3 separate regions of the Homo sapiens genome follow, and regions 1 and 3 are each linked to region 2. Evidence: fine-mapped expression QTL. A gene starts in region 2. Each other region holds a variant in brackets. All regions are shown on one strand. Distances are between the middles of the regions.

Region 1 (8,065 bases), 200 kb before region 2:
GAAAGGATTCTAGAAAATTAAAATATCAGACTTTTAATCAGGATTCCTGAATGCATGTTGTGGTTTCACTTTTGAAAACTGGATGACTTTGGGTGAATTTTATTACCCCTTTGAGCATCTTATTTCTTCAGCTATAAGGTAGGATTAACAGCAGTGTCTGTTTTACAGGGTTTCTTTTGGATATCAAATTAATATAAAAGACATAATGCTGTGAAAGTGGGAAAATAACATTTTATGCATGTCTTAGGCTGTCAGTAATTATTTTATTATCTTACAGTGACATGCTGTATGGTATTTGAGGGACTTGGCCTTGACTTATTTGTTCCTGGTCTCATAATTCTTGGGAGTGAGGAGTAGTCTAATTCTTTTCATATGTGAGGGCTCAATTAGCAAATCTTTATTTATCCTCATCATGCAAGGCCCTGGGTTAGGCACTATAGACACAGATGAGGCTGATGATTGCCCATCCCTAACCTCAGGTAGTTTGCAGTGAGAAATTAATGTGTCAAACTAATATCATTAAATAAAGGTTAGTGAAAAAGAGATACCAGAGCACCCAGCATAGCTGGGTTATGACCAGATGAGCCCAGTAATTTTTTTCAGACATGTTTCTGAATGGGATGTTGTGGAAAAGCCATAGGGCAGCCAGTCTGTTGGGTGCACTATTTGTTAATCAGTTTATACTTTGGGCTACAGTGGCAGGTGGTCAGGATTAGAAGTTAGGGTTGTTAGATTTTAGTCCTTGCTATTGATTCCTATCTAGGGGCAAGTCAGCTAGCCTCTTTTGTTTCCGTTATCTGTATCTGTGTGACAAAGAAGCCCCACTATTCTCATATTTCAATGGGTCAGAAAATCCAGCTGGGCAGTTTTTCTGCTTTATTTGTCTTTGGCTGGGGTCAATCACTCAGATGCATTTGGTTACTGACCAGGCTACAAAGCTCTAGAAGACTTCACTCACATGTTTAGTTCTTCTCAATGATACCCTCTCTCTTCACAAGGTGTCTCATCACTCAGTAATCTGGCTTGAGCTCCCTTACAACATGGCATCTAGCTTCCCCAGAGCACATGAAAGTGGAAGCTGCCAGCTTCCTAAGGGCTACCTCTGGAACTGGCACACTATTATTTCCACTGTATTCTATTGGGCAGCAAATCACAAGGTCAAGAGGAGAGGAAATAACTGCCTCTTGATGGAAGGAGCAGCGTACCTCCAGAGGAGGGAAGGGATTGTTGGTGGCCATCTTTGGAAATTGTTTAGTGTAGTTTTCTTATTTGTTTATTATAGTTTTCTTATCTATTAAATGAGATGTTGAATTAGGGAGTTTCTAAGGGCCTGTCAAACTCTACATTTCCGTAATACTATACTTTTTTTTTTTTTTGAGATGGAGTCTGGCTCTGTCGCCCAGGCTCGAGTGCAGTGGCACGATCTCGGCTTACTGCAACCTGTGCCTCCCAGGTTCACGCTATTCTCCTGCCTTAGCCTCCCGAGTAGCTGGGACTACAGTCGCCTGCCACCACGCCCGGCTAATTTTTTGTATTTTTAGTAGAGACAGAGTTTCACAGTGTTAGCCAGGATGGTCTTGATCTCCTGACCTCGTGATCTGCGTGCCTTGGACTCCCAAAGTGCTGGGATTACAGACGTGAACCACCATGCCCGGCCTGGTAATACTATACATTTTTATTTAAGGGATTTTTGTGTGCATGGTATAATGGAAATAATTTGGCCTTTGGAGGCAGAAAGGCCTGGGTTTGAACCAGGGCCTTAAGATTGACCAGCACCTTGGGAAGTGACTTGAGTCTTTCTGAGCTTTTGTACACATCTGTTAAATAATAGGGTTAATTAAATAGGATTAATGTTAACTCACTTCTATAATAATTGTCCATCTTAGCACAGAGTCACGACCCAGAAGGTGTTAGCACCCATCCCTTTTCCCTTCTTTGTTACCTGATACAGGCCTTTTAAAGCCAACAATAGTTAAAGATATTCATTGAGGTTTTTTTGTTTTGTTTTGTTTCATTCAAGTATAAAAATGTTTAGGTGTTTAATTGTGTTTTGCAGATGCTGGCTTATTTTTCTAAGACCAGGAGTTCAAACAAAACTGTTAAGTTTGTTTATCTGTTTTGTTGTTATAAATTGTCCTTAGAACATTGTTGCTATTAAGAAAGCAGGCTTAAAAATAACTTAATTTGAAAAATGCATTTTGGTCTGTGAACAGCTGAGTTATTTGGCATTCTAGTAACTTTTGTCTGGAAGAAAAAAATAGCTGTGGGGCATGGCCAGCATTCGGTCTGGCTGTTATACGCTGTGGTGGTACTTAGCTTGTGAACCAGGCCTGATAGGTGAGACTGGGCATGCACTTCTACTCACAGGCTAAATGGTTGAAACCACTGGGGTCAGAAAGCTCAGCAACTAAGGGCAGTAGGAGAAAAGAAAATCTCTGTTGTCTCTAAAGCACTGGTTCTCAGTGTATTCCCTGGACCAGCAGCATTAGTATCTCCCACAGTCATTGCAGTGATTTTATTGTACTGGTTATTGAGAGGGTTAAATAAAAGGATTCGTATAAAGTGTTTAGCACAGTACCAAGTAACCATTTTAGTAAGTGTTAGGCATTATTAGTAATATTCATCTTCATTGTCATAAATATTGATAATCATTGTGGTTAATATTTTTCTGCCAGAGTGTGTCTTGAAGCAGCTTATTCTGCAATTCTTCTTAAAACTGCCAGAGTTCTGTTTCTTTTTTTTTTTTTTGAGACAGAGTCTCACTGTGTCACCCAGGCTGGAATGCAGTGGTGTAATCACGGCTCACTGCAACCTTCACCTCCCAGGTTCAAGCAATTCTCCTGCCTCAGCCTCCCAAGTAGCTGGGATTACAGGCGCCTGCCACCACGCCTGGCTAATTTTTAAAAAATGTTTAGTAGAGACGGGGTTTCACCATGTTGGCCCGGCTGGTTGGTCTTCTTTTTTTTTTTGAAAGGAGTCTTGCTCTGTCGCCCAGGCTAGAGTGTGGTGGCGTGATCTTGGCTCACTGCAACCTCCGCCTCATGGGTTCAGGCGATTCTCCTGCTTCAGCCTTCCAAGTAGCTGGGATTACAGACACACGCCACCATGCCTGGCTAATTTTTGTATTTTTAGTAGAGATGGGATTTCACCATGTTGGCCAGACTGGTCTCAAACTCCTGACCTCAGATGACCCACCTGCCTCAGCATTCCAAAGTGCTGGGATTACAGGCGTGAGCCACGGTGCTCGGCCTCAGGCTGGTCTTGAACTCCTGACCTGAGGTGATCCATCCTCCTTGGCCTCCCAAAGTGCTGGGTTTACAGGCATGAGCCACCATTCCTGGCCAAAGCTGCCTGAGTTCTGATTAGTTCTTTTTAAAAGCTTATGAATGGTGTGCTGGTCTAACAATATTTCAAGTTGTCAAGTAAGAAGGAGCTTCTTACAAAAGCCCATCGTTCTGAACAAGATATTCTTCAGTCCAAAATAATATTGAGAGATCACATAACACAGCTATGCAGATATATTCTAAGCCCTAACTTCGTGGGAGTCATTAATGCCATTTAATGAGGCCCCATACAATGTCTGAACTCTGGAGTTTGCTTTTAAGAGCCATTCTTTCCTAGACCCCCTTCCCTTCTTTACTTTAGGTATTGATGTCCTCCATTTACATCTCTGTGGAGTTTTTTCCTTTTTCTTTTTTCCCCCGCTCCCATTTGTGGTCAAATAAGGATCATGGTTAACCCCAGAAGGAAGGCCAGATGGGCCTTGGGGGCCTGGGCTGGGGCTGGAGCCTCTCCACTTCCGCCGGCCGCCTTGTTCACTTCCTTTTTTTCCCTCCCTTACCACTATGTTGCAGCCAAACTTCC[G/A]AAGTGAAAAGCAGTTTATTCCATCTAATCGGGGCTGCTGAATCAGAGGTGTTGGGGGTGTTCCCTGGGATGATGCTGCCCTTTGGCCACTGATCTCTGTATCATAGCTTACCTCGGCCTCCCTCTGGCGCCACCATCCAGGACTGGAAGCATTTGCTTTTCCTCAGGGAGCCGTGGGTTCAGGCCATGGGTGGTGAGAGAGTCTCATCTTCTCCAGCTTCCTGGTCCTCAGACTTGAGTAACACTCCTTATCCTCTGTCTGTTGCCTTCTTTGGGCAAGCACGTGGAGCCGCTCAAGTAAAGCTGCTCTTCATTGGGAATATTATCTGCCAAGGCTAAGCCAGGATCCCTAGAGAGCATCCAAGTCAGGGCTTTCAGCAGAGTTCCCTGGAAGCACTGCATTCTGTGGAGGGCCAGAGCCAGATCCCTGTCTCTGCTCCAGCCGACAGCTCGGCCACCATCAGTTTGGTGTATTGAGGTCATGCATAGAATTTAACATTGAAAAACATCCTTGTTCAGCTCCTTCAGTGATGAGATGAGAATCCCTGGGGAGTGGAAAGTGAGGATCTCAGAAGTTGCCCAAGGGAACTTAGTGTCTTATTTAGAGTCATAATAACTAGCTTAGACTAGCGTAACTGCTAGTCAAGGCTCTTTGGAAGGAAGTAACACCCACGCAAACTACTAGAACTTGAAATGGGCAGTTTATGATAAGGGAGTGTGACTGTCTCAGCATACTGGCATCAGTGTGCTATTGAGCTGGTGAGGGCCTGGAGGTAGCTTCAGGTTGCCCATGGCCCTGAGGCAGCTTCACTGTGGGCCTCTCTTTGAGAAGTGGGATTCTGGTCTTTGCATCTTCCTTGTTATTCTCCCTCTGCTGGCCTCTCTCTGCTCCTTTGTTCATGTTGCAGAAGATAGTGGCTCCTCACCTCCCAAGTGACATATCCTACAAAACTGCTGCACTTTCTGCCCCAATAGCAAACTTCTGGAGGTGAATTTGGGCAGATGTCCACTTTTGCTTCATCGATTGTGGCACGGGGCAGTGTCACATGGTAAATACATGGCTGCCCATGCCCACCCTTGAGCATGACAGCTGTCAGAAAGAGGGGCATAGATTCCCCCAGAAGTTACATGATAGTACTTTACAATTTAGAGACTTTGCTGGAAAGTTTCTTTTTGGCAGTCTCATAGACAGGCCTTTTTACAGAACATAGTAATGAGCACTTACAGTTTGTAGAGAGGCCTCGGGGGCATCCAAGAGGTAGCTGGAATAATCTGACCCTTGAGAAGCTTCTCTTGGTTCCTGGGGATGACGATGGTCATAATTAACTGCTTTACTTACAACTTGGCAATGTGTTTTATTATCGGTGTGCATTTTGAAGTGTTTTAAGGTTTTTCACATCCCTCACTGTGTGTGTGTGTGTATATATATATCTGTTATGATAATTAAACCAAATATTGTAAAAGTCAAGAAAAGTGTCAAAGAGGATGTCATTCTACTAAACTTTTTTGAATGGCTACTCTTTGATGATCTTGTGAGTTGGGAGAGGACCCAACCTTCAGTAGCATGAATCTGGTCTTAAATCTTAAATTTTGAAGCACTGAATGCATTGCAAAGTGTCCCATAGTCATCTATGAGTGTGCATATTTGCTTTTGACTCAGCATTCCATTTGTACTTCCTCCACAACAAAAAATGCATTGTAGCTTTAGTATTTTTAATTGTCACCAAGTAGTACTGCTAGCCATTGTGCAAAGTCTACCAACAGCTGATAAAATGATTACATTTTTAAAGGTTGCTGGATGGAATCAGATGTTGCTGTATCAGTTCCTATGCCGCGTGTGTCTGTTTCACTTCCCATAATGACTGATTCTCCACCTGCCATGACAGTGCATTCTTGATCTGCTGCGCCCTCCTTGGGTTGGGGACTGGAATATTTATTTTTAGGAAAAGTTAAAATTATCCAGAGAAGGGTGCTTTCTGTAAAATTTACATGAATCAGCCTCTTATTGCAGAGATCATGGGAGATGTGTGTGTGTGTAGATAAAAAAAACTCAATGGAAAAATGTAAAACTGTTAAAGGGAAGGAATATAATGAACATTGTTTTACCCATCACTATCTTTAACATTGTGGGCACTTTTAAATTAACTAGTATTCAAACTAAATGTGTGTTTAATAAAAGTGAATGGTACTACATAACATTAATGCTTTTGCAGTTAAGCTAGATTTTCCAAATTTCAGCAAAACCAAGAGTCTTAGCTCCTTCCTTCAGTCTTCAGTTTAAATTCTAAGAAATATTATTCGAAGTTTAAGAGGTCTTATTAGGGCATTAATGTGGGTTTTCCCGTATCAAGAGCAGACACAGGTTTTTGGTGTCTTAGGTTCTAAAGATACCAGTGTTCCTTAGATTTCTGACCTGACTGTGAAGGGAATTCTCTTTTTTTTTTGAGACGGAGTTTCGCTCTTTTAGTGGCATGATTTCGGCTCACTGCAACCTCCGCCTCCTGGGTTCAAGTGATTCTTCTGCCTCAGCCTCCTGAGTAGCTGGGTTACAGGTATGCACCACCACGCCTGGCTAATTTTTGTATTTTTAGTAGAGACGGGATTTCACCATGTTGGTCAGGCTGGTCTCAAACTCTTGACCTCATGATCTGCTCACGTTGGCCTCCCAAAGTGCTAGGATTACAGGCATGAGCTGATTTTTTGTGTTTTTAGTAGAAATGGGGTTTAACCATGTTAGCCAGGCTGGTCTTGAACTCCTGACCTCAGGTGATCCGCTTGCCTCTGCCTCCCAAAGTGCTGGGATTACAGGCGTGAGCCACCGTGCCCGGCCGAAGGGAATTCTTGTTAGGCTATTGCACAGTTGTCAGATGGACCTGACTGCTTCTCATCTCTAGGATCTTGGTTCCTTCTCTCCAATATGGGGATAATAAGTGTCAATCTTCATGGGGTTGTTACATAAAAGGTTTCTAACACAATGCCTGGCAACTGGTAAGCATTTACCAAATAAATAAGCCTTAGCTTAATTAGTAATCAAAGATACCAGCTGGGAAACATATCTATTTTAAGATTATATAGGCTCCTTCTCATCCTCTTTGGGCATTTTATTTCAGCTGCTTAAGATGTGAAATCTGTGTGTTGTGGTGTTCCTTGTTACAATCTCCCTTTTTTTTTTTTTTTTTGAAACGGAGTCTTGCTCTATCGCCCATGCTGGAGTGGGAGTGGCGTGATCTTGGCTCACTGCAACCTCCGCTTCCCAGGTTCAAGCAATTCTCCTGCCTCAGCCTCCAGAGTAGCTGGGACTACAGGTGCACTCTGCCACGCCTGGCTAATTTTTTGTATTTTAGTAGAGATGGGGTTTCACCGTGTTGCCCAGGCTGGTCTTGAACTCCTGAGCTCAGGCATTCCACCCGCCTCAGCCTCCCAAAGTGCTCGGATTACAGGTGTGAGCCACCGCGCCCGGCCAAGCTCTCTTTTAAAAGCTTTTTTTGTGACAGCAAAAGAAAGGGAGCTAAGATTGACTACCTAATAAAGTAGGTGTTTTTCACATTTTCATGTGTTTCCTATTTAGTTCAGTAGGTGTTTTTCCTGTTTAGTTCTCACAACACTGTGAAGTACATGTTACTGTTGACATGTCACAGATGTGACAGGCAGTGAGATTGAGTAATTTGCTCAGTTGGGAGGTAGAGAATGTGAAAAGCAGGTTTCAAGCCTGGGGTCTCTGACTCAAAGGCATATGCTTTGATGAAGATCGAAACTCTAGCTACAAGCTTGTGAAGATATTAATTTAGAATCATCCTTGTCCAGTAATAACACAACTACTTATAGTGGTTTGTAATTTTAAACATTTTATTAATATTAACTATATTACATTTACTAACCATGTTAAAATATGTTCTCTTGGGAGGTAGGCAGCACAGGTAACATTGTTAAAGAAGGGGCCCTGGAGCCTCTGATTCTTGTTCTTTATTGTCCTTGCCCCTCAGTAAAAAATCCTTTAGGAAAACAGATGCGTTGATGACTGTGCTGGTCAAAGGTCAATTTTGGACCCCAGACTCCTTTGTAAAAGCTTAATGAATCTGACCAACTCTTCTAAGCTCTTCTAGAGGTAGCTGCCACTCCCAAGGGAGAGATTCTTGAGCTCCTTTGGCTTACCAAGTGGGATGGGGTGAGATGGTATGCAAAGAGGGAAGGTGAAAGAAAG
Region 2 (8,065 bases):
CATTGGATTTTCCAAAAAAAAAAAAAAAAAAAAAAAAAAAAAAAAAAAAAAAAAGTTGATCTCAGCAAGTCTTTTAATAGGATCAATGGAATTTAAATATGAGGCTAATAAGCCAGATACCCCAATTTCTTCCCCTAACGTTTCTCTAGATTCATTTCACTCTGGGGCCACCGATGCAGCAATACAGCTAACTGGGGTTCTGAAGTTCCCAAAAAGCTTTTGGAGATGAGTAGTGGTAATTACACTAATGTATTTTTAATAAGCAGGCACTACTGGGATTTAGCACTAATTTTGGGAGGTACAGATTAACCGTTTCAGTGATTTATAAGTGGTAATTCCTAAATTATTTCCTGTTAAGCCCAATTACTTCCCACAATAATGGTTCTTATCACTTGGTCCCCCAATTTGAGAATCATTAATCCAGATAGTTGCTGCAAGTTAAGCCCCTTAGAGCAGCAACAGTATGAGAATTAGAAGCCAGTGGTGAAAAACTACCCCAAGACCAGAGCCGGGGCAGGGGACACCACGTGGGACATACTCAGATATGATATATGACAGGAAGGGCCACCTCTACAAAGCCTTTCACATGCACACCAGAACATGGACTGTATTTCATATCTGACCAAATCGTTTCCTCCTCGTCCTCTCTAGAACATGAACAGTTGCTTGGATAGGGGTCATAATTCCAAACAAAAAGCATGAACTACATGACCTTCTACACTGACCTACCCCTGCACCCTTTGCTGATACCCAGCGTCAGCAAATTTGGGAGGACTCATGCAAATGGTAATTGTGCCTGCTAGGGGTTGGGAGCCCAAGGTGGTTTGGAGTTTTGTTTTGTTTTTAACCATATATCCTTTTCTTGCTATCTCTTGAATTCTGTACTAAGTTCATTTATTTCCCATTCAAGGAAATCAGTTTTAAAAGACATAGTTAATTGCCAAACTAAATGAAGCTGTGCCCTCTAGTTAAATACTCGCTCAGCTACTTAAGTGTTTCAGTTACGTTTCTACTCAGCCTGGAATCATTCTTGAAAGTTACGGACTGTGCCGTTTCTCCAACCACATACAGAAAAACAAATACACCTAAACTCCAATTTCTCTTGAGAATTAAATCTTATGTTTCACAGCAGGCCTTTCTGGGGCATCAGGGTGGAGACTTGTTTATGAGTGATACATGCGTTTGTCCCAACTTCAAAAGAACCACATTTTCAGTGGTGCCCCATCGGTCTTCCCCCATTCGAGAAAAGCCGAGAGTCTATTTCATGGTTGGTGACCCGTGGGGCCTGAAACCACAGAAGAGCACCAGCAAATGCAAATCAATCGCCTCTCCTACCCTCCCACACTATTTCCGCTCGTTTTCCATTGAGGACTCTGACCAAGTGTCAAAAGCGGACAGACGCACTTTTCTAGGTCACTTTTCCTTGGCCAGCGAGGGAGCAAGCCTCCTTGTTTTCATGTTAGCCATCCCTCTGACCCTACTCTCCAAAATGAGCCTCAGCCAGGCTGCTGCTTTTCCACATCACTAATAAGATTCCTTTTATGGTCTTGTGAAAAGCGAGGGGCTCCAGACAGATCCTCCGGCAGGAGGGTGGAACCACCTGCAGGCCCCTTCCCCCTAAACTCCAAACACACGTTCAAGGGCAGTTTGAGTATTCACAGTCAGCTTGGGCCAGCCAGATTTAAACGCAGCCAGACTCTTTAGCTTAAAGTTCTCCCTAATAGGGGATTAACAAACAAGATAAATACTCTTGGTAAAAATGAAATCCCACAACAGAAACAGCCCTTGGACCTCAAGAGAGCTTCACAGACAGCGTTGGTTTTAATTTTTCTTTTTATAAACCCCTTTTCATGGCAGTTTTTGATAACTGTCTTATCTCACCCACAGCAGAGGGCACTTTATAATGCCAGCTCCTGTAATCGTGGATTTTAAGAGCCACCCCAAGCTTCATACACAGACACAGCCAGATAGTCTCCCCTCTGTCTCCTCCCAGAATCACAACCTAAGCCGGCGGACAGGAGGCAGCAGAGTGCACCCCATTAGAGCACGTGGTGGAAAGCAATGCTCTGGGGCACCGAGCTCCCCCTCTCACCACCCACCCTCCCAGCACAGGCTAGGCCAAGCCCCAGTCTTGGCAATGAGTCATGCCTCCTGGACAGCAGGAGCCAGGCAGAGGGCACACCCCCAACATTTCCCTTTCCTCCCCTTCTGCAATCGCACCCATCTTCCTTCCACCCATTTTGGGATGTTGCAAGGGCCTCGCTGCAGGATCTGCCAGCTGGGCCCGGGCCTCGAGCTCCTTTGGGGGCGGAATGGGGCGGGGGGATGAGGGCCTATCACTTACACCCTCAGGCACTACCTCCAGAAGACCACCCCTTCCAAGCCTTGGCACGGCCCCCGAAGGCTTGCGGGGGCCGTGCACCCGCCCTTCCCGGGGAAGTCTGCAAACACAGCTGTTCCAGAGCCCGGGAACCGCTGGAAGTGAGGCCACAAGAGCTACACCACTCGGGGGCGGGGGCAGGAAGGGGCCAGCAGCGGGCGGGGGTTCCCAGGTCTACAGCTCCTGTGAGGGCCCCAAGAACCTCCTCCTGCGGCGGCCGCCCCCGGCCCTTAAGCCGAACCTGGAGAGCGCCCCCGCACACACTAAAATCTCCCGGGGAGCAGCGGGAAACGGACTCCCCCACACCCTCCAGGAAGGACACACCCGCCCTCCCGGCCGTTCACGGGAAAGGGGAGGTTGCCAATTTGGACGGCGTTCGCAGGCCAGAACTGCGCCGAGTCGCCTTCCACGGCGCACCAGGTTTAATTAGTTAAGCAAAGAGATCAGCTACAACGATCTCTTGGCTTGGGGCCGGGAGAGTTACTCTGGGAACTTCAAGTTGCAAGTTTACACCGGCCTTCCTAGGAGCCTGGTCCCATAAACCCTCTGGGATCCCCACTTTTGTGCACTAAGCAAATAGCAGCAGGAATGGGACCCACCTCGACTACCCCAGCCGAGATCTAACTATAGTGTCCCGGCTCCCTCACCCGCCACCCCTAGAGATTTCCCCAGTTAGCGCCTAGTTTCAAGCCAAAGCCCTTTAAATCCCTCTCGCAAGGGATAACAGGGCTCGGCCAGGCGCGGGTGTGAGGCTCCGCCCGGCCTCCTTCCCGAGTAGTCACTCACCGGCCAGGCGAAACTGAAAGGCAGCACGATGCGGTTGCGGTCGTTGCCGCGGCTGGCCTTGAGGTTGAAGGTGTTGCCCCCGATGACAGGCGTGGACCCTGAGCCGAAGCTGCAGGGCCCCCCGGCCGTGACGCGGGACTGATACTCCTTGAGGCACACTTTGAAGTATGTGTCACACTCGTCGCGGGTGCACTTGCGGTCTCCCGGGTTCCGGGCGCCGCCGCAGCAGTTCCCGTTCTGCAGCTCCCCGTTCACGTTCTGCATGGACAGGATCTCCAACTCGAACTGACCCGAGGCCCCACACACCTGCCGGCGAGGGAAGGAGGTAGGTCAGCGCGGGAGAAAGCTGTTTTCTTCGAGTATAGAGGTGGCGACTCCCTCCCACTCCCCGCCCCGACGAGCCCTCCTCGCCGAGTGAAAATAATTTTGCGAAACTACGTTCAAGGACTCAACATGATTCCGGGGCAAAAAAAAAAAAAAATGCACGAGTGCGGAAGAAATCCGACGACTTCCCGGGGGGCAACAGCGGAGCGAACGCGCCCCTGTCCGGCCTGGAGGGGTCACCCTCAGGAGGCAGGGGCTCCCGTGGGGGAGTTGGCGCGCTCAGCCCAGGTGCAGCCGCTCGGGCGCAGGGGCGAGGAGTCGGGCGCTCGAGGGCTGCCGAGCCTGCTCGCGGGGCTCAACCGCCCAGGGCGCCGCGAGGGGAGGGAGAGGACGGCTGGGAGGGAGGCCCGGAGAAGGGCTCCTACCTTGGCTCGCAGGGCACAGAGCAGGGCGAGCAGGAGGCTTAGGGGGCGCCCGGACCGGCCGCGCGTCCGTGGGGAACGCATCGCTGCGCCGCGCGCCGCGGGCACTCGGGACGCCGCCGCTGCTGTTCGCGCTGGTGCTGCCGCCGGTGCTGCCGTCGCCGCTGCCCCTGCGGCCGCCGCGTCCCGGCTCTAATATACTCCGCCGATTGGAGCATGCACGACTGGAAAACAACACCACTTTTCAAAAGCCCTTTCAAGAGCGGCCCGTTCCAGAAGGCAAAGAGCCCGGCCTCCTTTTATTATTCTGATCGCTTCTTTGAGACGCTCCCCCTCCTCTTCCACCTCCCGGCTTTCTTTCCTTCTCTCGCGCTCCCCTTCTTTTATTATTATGATTATGCGCAGCCTTTTATTCCCTTTTAGATCAGCTGCATGGAAAAAGGGGGGAGGGAGGGGAGAAAAAAAAAAACCAGCCTAGCTCGCGGGCCGGCCGCAGGTAACACAATGACGCGTGCCCGCCCGGCTCTCGGAGAAGGACCCGGAGAGCCCGTCTGGCAGCAGCGGCCGGGGCTGGCCACCTCTACCCAGCACGCCGGGCAGGGCGCATGCGCGCTTATTAATATTCATGAGAGGGCGTGCTCACCCTGGGCACGCCCCTCCCCTTCACGTTGCTGGGGAGGGGGTAGTGCGAGGAGGAACTTGGAAGGGGTTGGGGGCAGCGGGATGCTCAGGGCGGCGTAGAAGAACCAGGGCCCCACACCAACCCCCGCCCTCGGGAGCTTCGGGCCAGGAGGGAAGGGAGAGTGCGGGGAGGTACTTGGAAGGGATCGTTGCTCAGGGACGCCTGGAGGCCCCCAGCGGGGACCGCCCCCTCGGGCGCCCCGGGCCGTGCGCCTTTGCCCGCGCGTCGGGGCCCCAGGTGTAGGCGCCGCGGCGCTGACTGAGCGGTCGGAGCGGGGCAGCTTCCGCCTTCCGAACCGCCTGCGTCAGCTGCGGCTTTCGCCCCGGGAGGAGGGCCTGCCTGCCCGCCGGGAGTTCGGCCCGCTTCCCGCGAGCGAGCCGCCCAGAGCGCTCTGCTGGCGGCAGAGGCGGCGGCGAGGCTGGCGCGCTTGCCGCCGTCTGCTCGCCCCGCGGAGGCGACCTGGGCAGACGCTGCTGGGAACTTTGAAAAACTTTCCTGGAGCCAGGCTTGCCGCAGATTCGAGGGGAAGCCTCGGCCGCGTCCCACCCCCTCCCAAATCCGAGTCTGCGGAGCCTGGGAGGGCTCCCAGCTTCCTATCCAAACCGCGCCGGGGCAGAGGCGCGGGGAAACCGGGGGTAGAAGGCGGCGGGCACGCCGGGGCCCTGTTCAGGCTTTGGGAAGGGCCGGCGGAGATGCTGGTGGGCTTGGACGCCCTCCCCGGCCCGACGCCCCGGCCGCAGTGCCGGGATTGCACCTGTAGGCGGCCTCCGAGCAGCTCTCTGGGTGGCAAGAGATGGGCCTGGGAGGGACCGTGTCCCCAGCACCGCCAGCCGCGGAACTTGCCTTCTCTGGGGTGGCAGTGGAAACCGATACTGTTTTCCACCTTGAGGCAAGCCTCGCAATTAACAGCTACACTCCTGGTCATAATCAAGGTCGAAGAAAGCCCGTGGGCTGGCCGTAGCCTCTGCTAACCCCTCTCCCACGGGCTTGCTGTTGCATTTGAGGGGACCTTTATATGGAAACATCGACTTCCTTTGAAGGGTGGACAAAGTTTTGGCCCTAATAGTAGGTATGTCCTGCAGAAAAGCGTGACTATTCAGCGGCCGGTTTGGGGCTTGAGTTCTCCTGGGTGTGGGGCGTGATGGGCTGGCAATAGGTCAAGGGAAAATAGTTTCCAACATGCTGAGTTATGAGCATAAAAGGGTGGGTATTTGTGGTTATCTACTTATTGCATTTGATGGGAGGCTCAGTATGAACAATATTTTCAGTGCCAAATCTCATCATTCTGAGGAATAAACTAGGGCAGCTAACTGACCTCTTTACATAGGTTCAAAGCTACCAAGGATGGTTAGGAGTCTTGGCATTTTAACAGCCTAAGAAATGCTCCTAAGAAAAGTGCTTACTTAGTGGTAATGTGTCCCATCTTGAGCACTGGCGGGAGAATCCATGTTTTGGAAGGGAGGTTTCTAAGAACAGAGCAAGTTTACAGCTGGTCATGTTAGCAGCTGGGGTAGGCAGCGACAACCTGGGTGTTTCAATGTGCCCCAGCCTCCCTTTCCCCAATTATCCTAAATCAAGGCAACCAGTTGTCAACTGTAATCCCATCTACACTTTTCTCACTGAGGTTTCCATCAACACCAGTCTCCCCACTTATCTGTCCCGTTCTAATTTCTACTCCCAAGTATCCCTGAGTTTGGGTGCTAAATAACGGTTTAAAAGTAAAATGGGCCGCGAGCTGTGGGTCACGCCTGCAATCCCAGCACTCTGGGAGGCCGAGGCGGGTGGATCACGAGGTCAAGAGATTGAGACCATCCTGGTCAACATGGTGAAACCCGGTCTCTACTACAAATACAAAAATTAGCTGGGCGTGGTGGCACATACCTGTAGTCCCAGCTACTCGGGAGGCTGAGAGAGGAGAATAGCTTCAACCTGGGAGGCGGAGGTTGCAGTGAGCTGAGATCATGCCACTGCACTCCAGCCTGGCGACAGAGCGAGACTCCATCTCAAAAAAAAAAAAAAAAAAAAAAAAGGCAAAATGGTGCTGAAAAAGGCTGGTGTGATCTTAAAGAGCACACTCCTTGGAGTTCCCTATGTCGGACCCTGTTTTAATTCTGTGCCTTGTGCCCCCCACAGCTCTCAGGAAAGAGGCTGCGGAGCCAGACCTTTAGTTAAAGTGTTTAGATCTCCACCTGGCTTCACCTAGAAGGGCTACCTGAGATTGCAGGTGCCACCAGTTGCAATCTGGGCCACATGCAAGCTGGTGTCACCTCCAGTCCACCAGTGAATTTAGCCCATTTGACTGATAGGAAAGAAAATATAAACTCTGAGAGGTGAAAACTACCTGATTACACCTAACAAGAATGTCAAATCACTGATAAACACAAAATTTTTATGTCACATAGCACAGAGTCCCACACCCTTCCTGAGCCTGGGAACCCACTTTTAGAGAAGGCAGTTGTGGGCTAGAGGGAATTCTTTTGAAAATTTTCAGTTGGGGCTCTTCCAAATAATTGGGACTCCCCCAAAAAGCCAGTCACGTTTACCACAACAGACACTGAGTGGAAGCTCTATCCTCTGCTTCCTTGAAGCCGGTTGTCAGGCCCCCTCCTTAGAGAATGAGGAACTGCTGCCGAGAGAACTGAAATACAGAGATTCCCCCTTGGCAGGGCTTGTCCTGCTTTGGGGTATAGCCTCCAAGTGTAAATGAATATTCCAGAACAACCTTCCTGTGGAAAATGCCATCTTTAGCTGTCATACCTACACCTGAGAGAAGGGGAGAGGCTTGTAGTCAGTTACTATCTGACCTGTCTCGTGTGCTCAAACATCATCCTTGGATATCTTTTCCTTTAATTCTAAAAAGATGATGGATGCCTCATTTTTTCTTTTCCCAGAAAACTTGCCCCACTTTTATCTAGTCAACAACATATAGCAGTTCTGAACCTGCAAAAGCTTTATAAGAGACATTCAAGCTATATTAGCTGTATTTAAGTACATCTAATCAACTGTAATCCTTGGTTAATCAACACTGTGGTTAAAATAAGCTAATCAATATTTATTGAGAACTGCTATTATAAGCAGTAACATCGATGATCTAAAAAATATTATGTTAAGTGAAATAAGCCAGACACAAAAGACTACATCCTGTATGAATTTATTTATACGGAGTTCCAGAACAGGAAAAACTGGTGAAAAAAGATCACAAGAGTGATTTTGAGGGTGGGTGGGTGGGAGCAGAGCTTCACTGGGATGGGCTTGAGGCTCTTCTGGTGGCATTGTGGGGTAATGTTTCATATTTTTGATAGGTGTTTGGGCTACACAGGTGTATGCATTTGTCAAAATTTATTAAATAGTACATTTAAGATTGTATTTCATTAGGTGTTCAAAAGAGGAAAAAAGAATTGTGAACAGATATTCACCTCCAGTTATATGAGTGCTGAAGCATTTAGCGGGGAAGTGGAATGATATCTGCAA
Region 3 (8,065 bases), 520 kb after region 2:
GTGTCCATAAATGAAGCTTTATTGGAACACAGCCAATATATTTGTTGATATATTATCTATGGCTACTTTTATACTACAAAGGCAGAGTAGAGTAACTGTGATAGAGACCATATGCCCTGCAAAGTCAAAAATATTTACTATACAGCTATTTATAGAAAGACTTTGCCTATTATTAATTTAGATGATATTAAACCTAAGGGATTGGACTGTACAAATCCTAGAAAGTTTTGCTTTGTCTTTGCGTCCAGCAAGCCTGATGTCCTGGAAAAATGTGGGAACCTGGAGAGAGGACCATCCATTCACTTGCCTGCTGTGAGTCTCACTTGTGGACTCTCTAAGGAAGGAACAACATCAGAAGAGAATGATAAATGACCAAAGCCAGACAGGGTCCCTGCACTGCAAGCTCCAAATTAACTCTAGAGTGAACAGATCTGCAAAGTTAAAAAAAAAAAAAAGAAAGAAAGAAAACATGGGAAAAGGGCCTTCTGTTTATTTTTTTTCCCCTTATTAATTTACCACAACCACTGTCCCACTGTCAAGTATCCCAGTTTCTGTCTGAGAAGAGCAGCTGGCAGGGACAGTGATCAAAAAGCAGTTGGAAAACCCCAAGAAATTATGGAACCCTCATAAAAGAATCAAAGGACAATGTTTTTCAAACCACTTGAAAAACTAAAGCCTCCATTCTGGTCATACCATTCATTGTGTTTCTCGTGGTGTGTTAACTGCAATGAAGGACATGGGCAGTTGTGGAGATTGGGGTAGAATGTTTTCAGTGAAATACCAGCCTCCTAAGTGACAAGATTCACAGGAGCCTGTGCTTTAGCATGAAAATAATGTCCTCAATGTATCTTAACTGAGAACCAGACAAGTAATTTTTTAGTAGAACTTCAAACAATTGTTTACAGTAGAGTATAAAACATACTGCATATTAATTATATTCACACTCCTACTTGAGCTACACCAGTTGTCAGCGTTGACTATATATTTTCTACATATTTTATAATTAATAATAATAATTCTTTTTGGGAAGGTTTAGCCAATAGAAGGGAGATGGGGTGGTGGTTAAGTACCTCAGGATTGCAACTTGAGAGTGAATGGCAAGGAAACCACTTAATCTTTAAAACACACACACACACACACACACACTGTATTTCAAAATCTTCACTAGGTATTTGAGGTGGTTTTTTACTAGTGTTTTGAAATAGTGACTGTGACTCAAGAAAGGCTAGAAGATGCCACATCCATTCATATTTTTCTGCTAGGATTCTTATGGCTTCTAGTTGTGGTGAACCAACCTCATTCTACCAGTCATACAAGCTTACTATGACTTGTCAGCTTTTCCATTCCCTGGTCACTTAAGTTAAGTGTATCCATTTATTTACTTCTCTCCAATATTGCCAAAATCTACAGTGAGGAAAAACATTATCTGAGCCATTATATGTTGAACCATTATTAGGAAATATTTGGCATTTATGTATAAATAGTTTCAGTTGTAGAACAAAAAGCCTCTATTAAAATTTCTGGAACTTCTTTTTCAGAAAATTTTATCATTTAAATAGGCTCATAAAATTATTTTGTCATGACATATATCACAATGTAATATAATCTATTTGTATCTGTGTGCATGTACATACACACACCATATATCAGACATTGTTTTATAAATTTATTATAGCAGGTGGCTATTCAATAAATTTTGGAAGAAAGAAATACAGACCTATCCATACATCTGGAGTAGCTTTGACCTTGACCAACTTAACTTCTACTCTCCATGATCATGTAGTGTTCTATTTAGAGGATCCCAGTGTTGTTATTAGAGCACCTTGCATATACCAAGTGCTCAATAAATGATGGCTGAATGCAGAATAAAATCATTACTGACACTTTCTTTTTTAATCCCCAAGGGCATGGCACAAGTTTCAATAAATACCAGGTGATTTCTACTGAAAATAATTTTACTGTATAATTTACAAAGTGCTTAAGTATCCACTACCTCATTTAGTCCTTACTACAGTTCTACAAGCTAAGTAGTTTTATCCACATTTTAAGGTGAGAAAATTACGCCCAGAGAAGTTAGATGACTTGCTCAGGGTCATCAACAAATAAGACATCATGAAGGGAATGAATTCAAATTTGGTGCCTTTGCATCATCCACTTTTTGTGTAGAGTTGACTGGTCAAAAGTCTGTCTCTCATTTACAAGTCAAGGTGCCAGGCATACAGTCTTGAATGTTGAGCCTCAGGCCTCCAATGAGCAATTTGTATTATAACCAAATAGAGTTGTTTGGCCATTTTAGGTCAGCATTTATGGTATTTACACCTATGAACCTACCCCCTTTTCTCTTTACAAACTTATAGGTTGACAATTTTTTTGTGTGAAAATTCACTGAAATGAGATTATCTCATTTTTGCCTCTTGATTTTTGGTGTGCTTTCTTGTTCTTGTTTAAAACATTTGGTTTTGTTTTGATATTAAGCTTCAGTGTCAGTCCTGTGAAGACGTAAGATAGAAGCTATACATGTACAACAATATAATCCATACTTCCAAAGCTACAATAAGCAGTAACACTTTTGGAGCGAAAAATCTTGGTAAAGCAAACAACACATGTTTTGGGGTTTGAGATCTAGGTTTGAGGCCTAGCCACAGCACTCTCATGTTCTTTTTGACCCAAGCCAAATCACTCAGCCTGCTGAGATCTCAGTTGTTTTTTTTCATCCTGGACAATGGGCATGATGCTGACTGTCCCTCTGGGTGGTTCTGAGGATCTTGGGAGGATGGATATAAGTGCAACTTAAACTCTGGAGCCCTTTACAACTGCAAGGCAGCATTATTCACTCAAACATAAAAATAGGTCATTAAGCATCATCAAAGGGAAAAGTAAATGTTCAGGGATCATCTCTGCTGCACTGTTGCTGGGGAAAGAGGCTCTTTGTCCCTTTAAGAGCTTTCAGACACATCTCTAGTCACATCCTAAAAGCCTTCCTAGTTGTGTAGCTTAGGTGCATCCGGTAGCACAGCCGTGTTCTGATCTTCCTGGCAGATGTCATAATTTACTGTCACCCCCATGCAGGAATGCAGGGCGAGGGGCCCCCATGCCGGCTCTGTGATCCATTGCCTGACAAGTCCTGAGTGTCAACCTCAGGCAGGCCCAGCGGAGGTGGAACACCATTTACCTGATAGTGCCTGTGATAAAGTGGGCAATTAGACGCACTTGGAAAAGCCTGGCTGGAAACTGGCTGGCATTTACACAACATTACAGCCAAGTCAGGCTTCATAAAAGTTAATGGAGAAAAATGAAGTCCTTCAAGATCTACCTTGCTCTCTGAGGAAGTCAGGAACACAGGACTCTGTAGCTTTATTTCTTTTTGTGTCTCTCCCACCTTTTCACTCTATTTCCCCCAGACAGGGTAATATATTCTCATTGGAGATGGGAGTAAAGGAAAGCGAATTGAGAGTTGAGGTCTTAAGTGTTTGATCTCAGAGGCATGTTATTTCTTTAGTCTTCAATCCTCTCTCTTCCCCTCCTCTCTGTCTCTCTCTCACACACACACATGCACACACACACACACACTCTATACTTCTATAGAGTATACACACTCTATATTTCTCTGTCTTTCTGTCTCTGTCTCTCTCTCACACACATGTGCGAGCACACACACACACAATCACAGTGCTAGGATTTAACTTGGCACCTTGGCTTACAATTTGCCTCTCACTGGAGTTTCTGGAGTTTGGTGCCAGTTCAAGAGCATGATCTGTTTGACATGAATTCTACAGCCCTCTCTTCATTTCCTCCTAACTGGATAGCTTCAGTTTGCCGATGATTAATGAGTCTGGAAGGTGAGCGACAGTTATCTTAAGGGCTCTCAAAAGTTTATTTCAGAGACTAGCCAAACTCTCCTGCTACATTAACTGCAGCGAAGTTTCCTGTTTAACAGCCCATGGAAAATAACTGCCTGACCCCCGCCCCCCCCCCAAACCAAGCTGCCATGAGCGCAGCTCTGTTTATTGGCCAACAGTGTGCATGTTCTCTCTATCGCTTCCTTTCAGGCAGACGAACATTTTACCTATGAGAAGTAGGAAGTCCATTGTGAGGCTGGTCCAATACTGGACCTCATTTGGATGTGGAGGATTTCTGAAATTGGAAAGTCAGGACTGATCTGGAAAATGTGCTTACAGATAGTGGAACAGGAAAATGATTC[G/A]CTCCCCAAGGCCAGTTCCTCCTCCTCTGCTGGGTGGAAAAGGTGGGAGGAAGGGACAGGGTGTTCTGCCTGTGATTGGAATTCCCCTGTAGAGTCATAGAGGATGAGCAAGCCTTTGGTTTTCCTTTTTCATATTTTATTTTGCACCTACAATAATAAGCATGCAGAGAGGAGACAGAGAGGCCTAAATGAGTTTTTTTCCTTTCTAAATAATGACCAGCTCTGTATCAATCTGAAGGCTACTGAGGGATGCTGGTGGCTGGATGGCGGGGCCTATTTAGGGTTTTGGCCTGATTAAAAGGTAGTCCCAGGGACATGCAGGCCTACCAGGTGCACACTGGTGCCAGCCACTTCAGTGGGGTGGGGGAAATTACTGGGCCTGCTGTCTCAAGTTTGAGAGGACATCTGAGATTCGGGTCCGATAGGGTCACAATGTCTTCAACACGAATAAATAGGCAGTTGTAGGTTGGGGAAGGGAAAGCTAAAGTGGAAAATAAATAACTTAAGACACCAGACAAGTTCTGGAGACTGAGGTAGAGAGATGATGGAGTGCTCTTCACCCATGTACACTTCAGCCTCTCATGTCATCGTGGTGATGCTGCCAAAATAGACCCAAGTTACATTTTCCTTATGATCTCATTTTACTGGGCTTGAAGCCTACCTCACTCAACATCTTTGGAGGGTACATTGAAACGAGCTGTTTGTAAGACAGTATTAAAGGAAGTGGCGTTATATGTGTGTGTATTTGTGTCATATACATATATGAAACAAAGATATTTGAATATATACATGTAGATAGTTTCCCAAAAACCCATCTCCCTTGGGGAATAGTCTCACCTTCAGGGAGAGGTGCTAGAGAGGGTCAGAGATTCTCCTGCTCTATGCCATAAGACCAAAGATAGATTGTAATTATGATCCCAATTCTTTGCCTCTCCTCTATCCGTGCTATTTGAAGCCCCTCCCATCAAGAGGTGAGGTCTGGGTCTATTTCTCTACTCTTTGATTATTGATTGGCCTTGTGACACAGCTGGGCCTATAGTGGAGGTTACACTGTGCCAGTTTTGTCTAAGCCCCGAGATGTCTTGTGTGTTTCCTCTTGCCCACTCAATCCCTGTAAGTTGCAGCCATGACACTATGCCCTGAATAGCCTTCTGTAGGATGAGACATGAGGGACAGAGCCATGTCATCCCAGTGGTTTTAGCGAAGGCTGTCCTAAATCAGCCAAAGGCTAACTGACCTCTGAAATATGAATGGGCCCAGCAGAGCCCAGGCCAAATCACCAAACTACAGACACAAAAACTCAATAAATCTTATTGCTTTGAGCCAGAGTTTGGGGCTGGTTTGTTATGTGTGTTATTTATTATCACAGCAATAAATAACAGATGCAGTTGCCTCTGCTTACTGTTCCAAGTCTTACTTTTTTTTTTTTTTTGGTCACTCATTTACATCTTTTTACATCTTTGCTAGTGAGCCAGTCTGATAGTGGCCTTTATCTTACATGATTTTTCAGTCCTTCATTTGGCTTTACCTTCATTCTCTTTCTTTCCTCACTCCCACTCACTTTGCATAAGAACCCATTTTGTTTTTCTATGGCACTCTTAAGTTAATACCAGACAGCCCTGACATTAGTAGGGAATTTTTCTCAGTTCCTCTCAAGCAACTTCTACATTTTGTGTTATTTTGACATTTGGGAGAAAGAAACAAACAATAAACAACTCTGTAATGCATTGGGTAATACATAGTGCTGTGGAGAAAAATTAAGCAGCATATGCCAAATATTGAGAGTTGAGGGGAAGGGTGCTGAGTGGGGAAAGGGGTGCTTCTTTTTCATAAAGGGTCCCTAGGCAAGGCCTCTCTGAGAAGGAGGCATGTGAACAAATACTAGGTGACTTGATCCTTTTCTAGACTATATTGGAGTGGGATGAAGGGTATGTAGGTCACTCCCCTGGTTACCTATTTCAAGGACTGATATGGAGACATAAAGAATCACCATAACTTGCCCAATAAAGTGCCACTCATCCATGGTCACTGTGGGAAGGAGGCAGCATTTCAGGGCTTGCAATTCTTTACATGCTTAATCCTTCTAGTATCAGAACTTTAACAAGCACCTGCTGGACCTGAAGTCTAAAGAGCTAGATTTTTACATCTATGCTGCCACAAGAAAATCATGTAAACTTGACAAAGTCATTATTTTCTCTGGGTTGATTTTTCTCATATGGCAAGTGAAGGGTTGAATTAGATGCATTTTAAAGAAACTACCAAGTCTGTCATTCTGTGGTTTTATGAGATTATGTAGCTGGTGCTACATTGAGTTTTTCAGGAGAAAGAAAAGAAGAAATAATTGTAATAACAATATTGCCCTCCTCACCGACCCGTATAATCTTCTCTAATTCTTCACAAAGATGAGAGAGACAGAAAGAATAATACAAGGGGGTAGAAAATAATGCATGCTTTAGGAATCCAAGCAATACTTTTTCTCTTCCTCATTGAGTCTTTGTACCTTCTGTCCCAAATCCAGAAAGAGCTAGTCTGCTTTCTCATGAACCATCCTAAATCTATAGGGCATTACTCCTTTAGGCATCTGCCAGATTCTAATTCTGAAGGATGATGTAGGATTTGGGTGTTAAAGTTGCTACTGTGTCCCCAGTTCAGGGCTCTGAACTGTCTCCTGGTGATGGGGCACACTGCTGCTGACAATTTTGGGTGAGAGGTTACCCATAGTGAGCCTCCACTCATTTTCTACTCAACAAGGACCTCCCTGGAATTCATCTGTGGTCAAAAAGAATCGTGGCAAACTTTGGCTATTGTACATGCAACAGAATGGCACTTCGATGTTTGTGGAGCATGGCAAGACTGCAATCCTATAACCTTACTGGCCTGGTAGAACTATTGTCATCGATGATGATCATGCAACTAACAAGAACTGTCCAATAAAGAACTGTCCATGTGGATCAATAAAGGATCCACATGACATGTGAATAGAGGGAGGACTGGCTGGCAAGGAGGAATGAGGCCAGAAATGGAAAAGAATACATAAGCCAGAAAAAAAAAAAAGCCAGCTTCTAGAGGAAGCATTGATAGCCAAAGCCTGCCTGCTTGGGCCTGGCTCAGCACACTCCCTCCATTCTTGATGCAGGTGTTATCAAGATTAGAGCATGCTGAACTGCTGGAACTGCACAGAAAATGTCATTCAGGAGACATTGAGGGAGAGAAAGTGGGGCTGCAGCAGTCAGGAAGGGGCATAGGGCCTTCCTGCGTAGTCATTTTCACAGCACAGTAAGAATAATAGAATGAGAAAATATGATTTTACAAGAAAAAATGGTTAAAGAAAAAGAGACAAAACATCACCATCATGCACACTCACAAACACAGACACACACACACAAACATGCACAAAACAGGGTATTGACTACAAGGAATGAATGTTTCCATTCTATTGCCAAAAAGGCCTGATTCTCTTTAACTGCTGTTTACCATTTTTCATTGTTTTATTACTATTATTATTTTGAAAATACTAGTTAAGCAATTACCTCAACCACTTTTGAAACTGTAGTATAGTGAAGTGGTTAAAAATGAGAATTCTGGAGCCGAACATCCTGAAACCAAACCCCAGTTTGTACCACTTTCTGTTTTGGGTCTGGATACATTAGCTCCATATTCCTTAATTTTCTCATTTATAAAATGAAAGTTATAACAACTTACATGTCATAGAGTTTTTATGAAGATTAGATAAAATTATATGTGTGAAGCACATGGAAAATCAATGCCTTGATCATTTGTTATGAATATTTTCAACTCAGATACAATGCAGCCGTTTACAGAGGTCTAATAATGAATAAATATAGTGGTTGGAGGTTATGAGAG

Which allele goes with the higher level. Positions count from the first base shown, and alleles are read on the strand shown. Sizes are in standard deviations (SD) of each study's normalised expression. Not every link is listed here.
As copies of G replace A in region 3, the expression in fibroblasts of the gene that starts at base 4,465 in region 2 goes down (moderate effect, 0.54 SD a copy in GTEx).

The links. PIP is the estimated chance that this variant, and not a neighbour inherited with it, causes the effect.
Region 1: its variant is fine-mapped to the expression of JAG1 in whole blood (INTERVAL, PIP above 0.99).
Region 3: its variant is fine-mapped to the expression of JAG1 in fibroblasts (GTEx, PIP above 0.99).

The regions. Positions count from the first base shown.
Region 1 is chr20:10,470,873-10,478,937 of GRCh38, forward strand. The region is part of intron 2 of SLX4IP (SLX4 interacting protein); the gene reads left to right. Among named protein-coding and RNA genes, the nearest start is that of SLX4IP, 40 kb to the left of the region's middle. The variant G/A (reference allele first, on the strand shown) is at 3,865.
Region 2 is chr20:10,669,535-10,677,599 of GRCh38, forward strand. JAG1 (jagged canonical Notch ligand 1) reads right to left here and starts at 4,465. Exons shown (of 26, transcript NM_000214.3): 1 at 3,916-4,465; 2 at 3,167-3,472. The coding sequence starts at 3,996. RefSeq lists silencers at 1,108-1,157, 1,208-1,257, 4,688-5,087.
Region 3 is chr20:11,192,206-11,200,270 of GRCh38, forward strand. No RefSeq gene overlaps it. Among named protein-coding and RNA genes, the nearest start is that of LINC02871, 170 kb to the left of the region's middle. The variant G/A (reference allele first, on the strand shown) is at 4,202.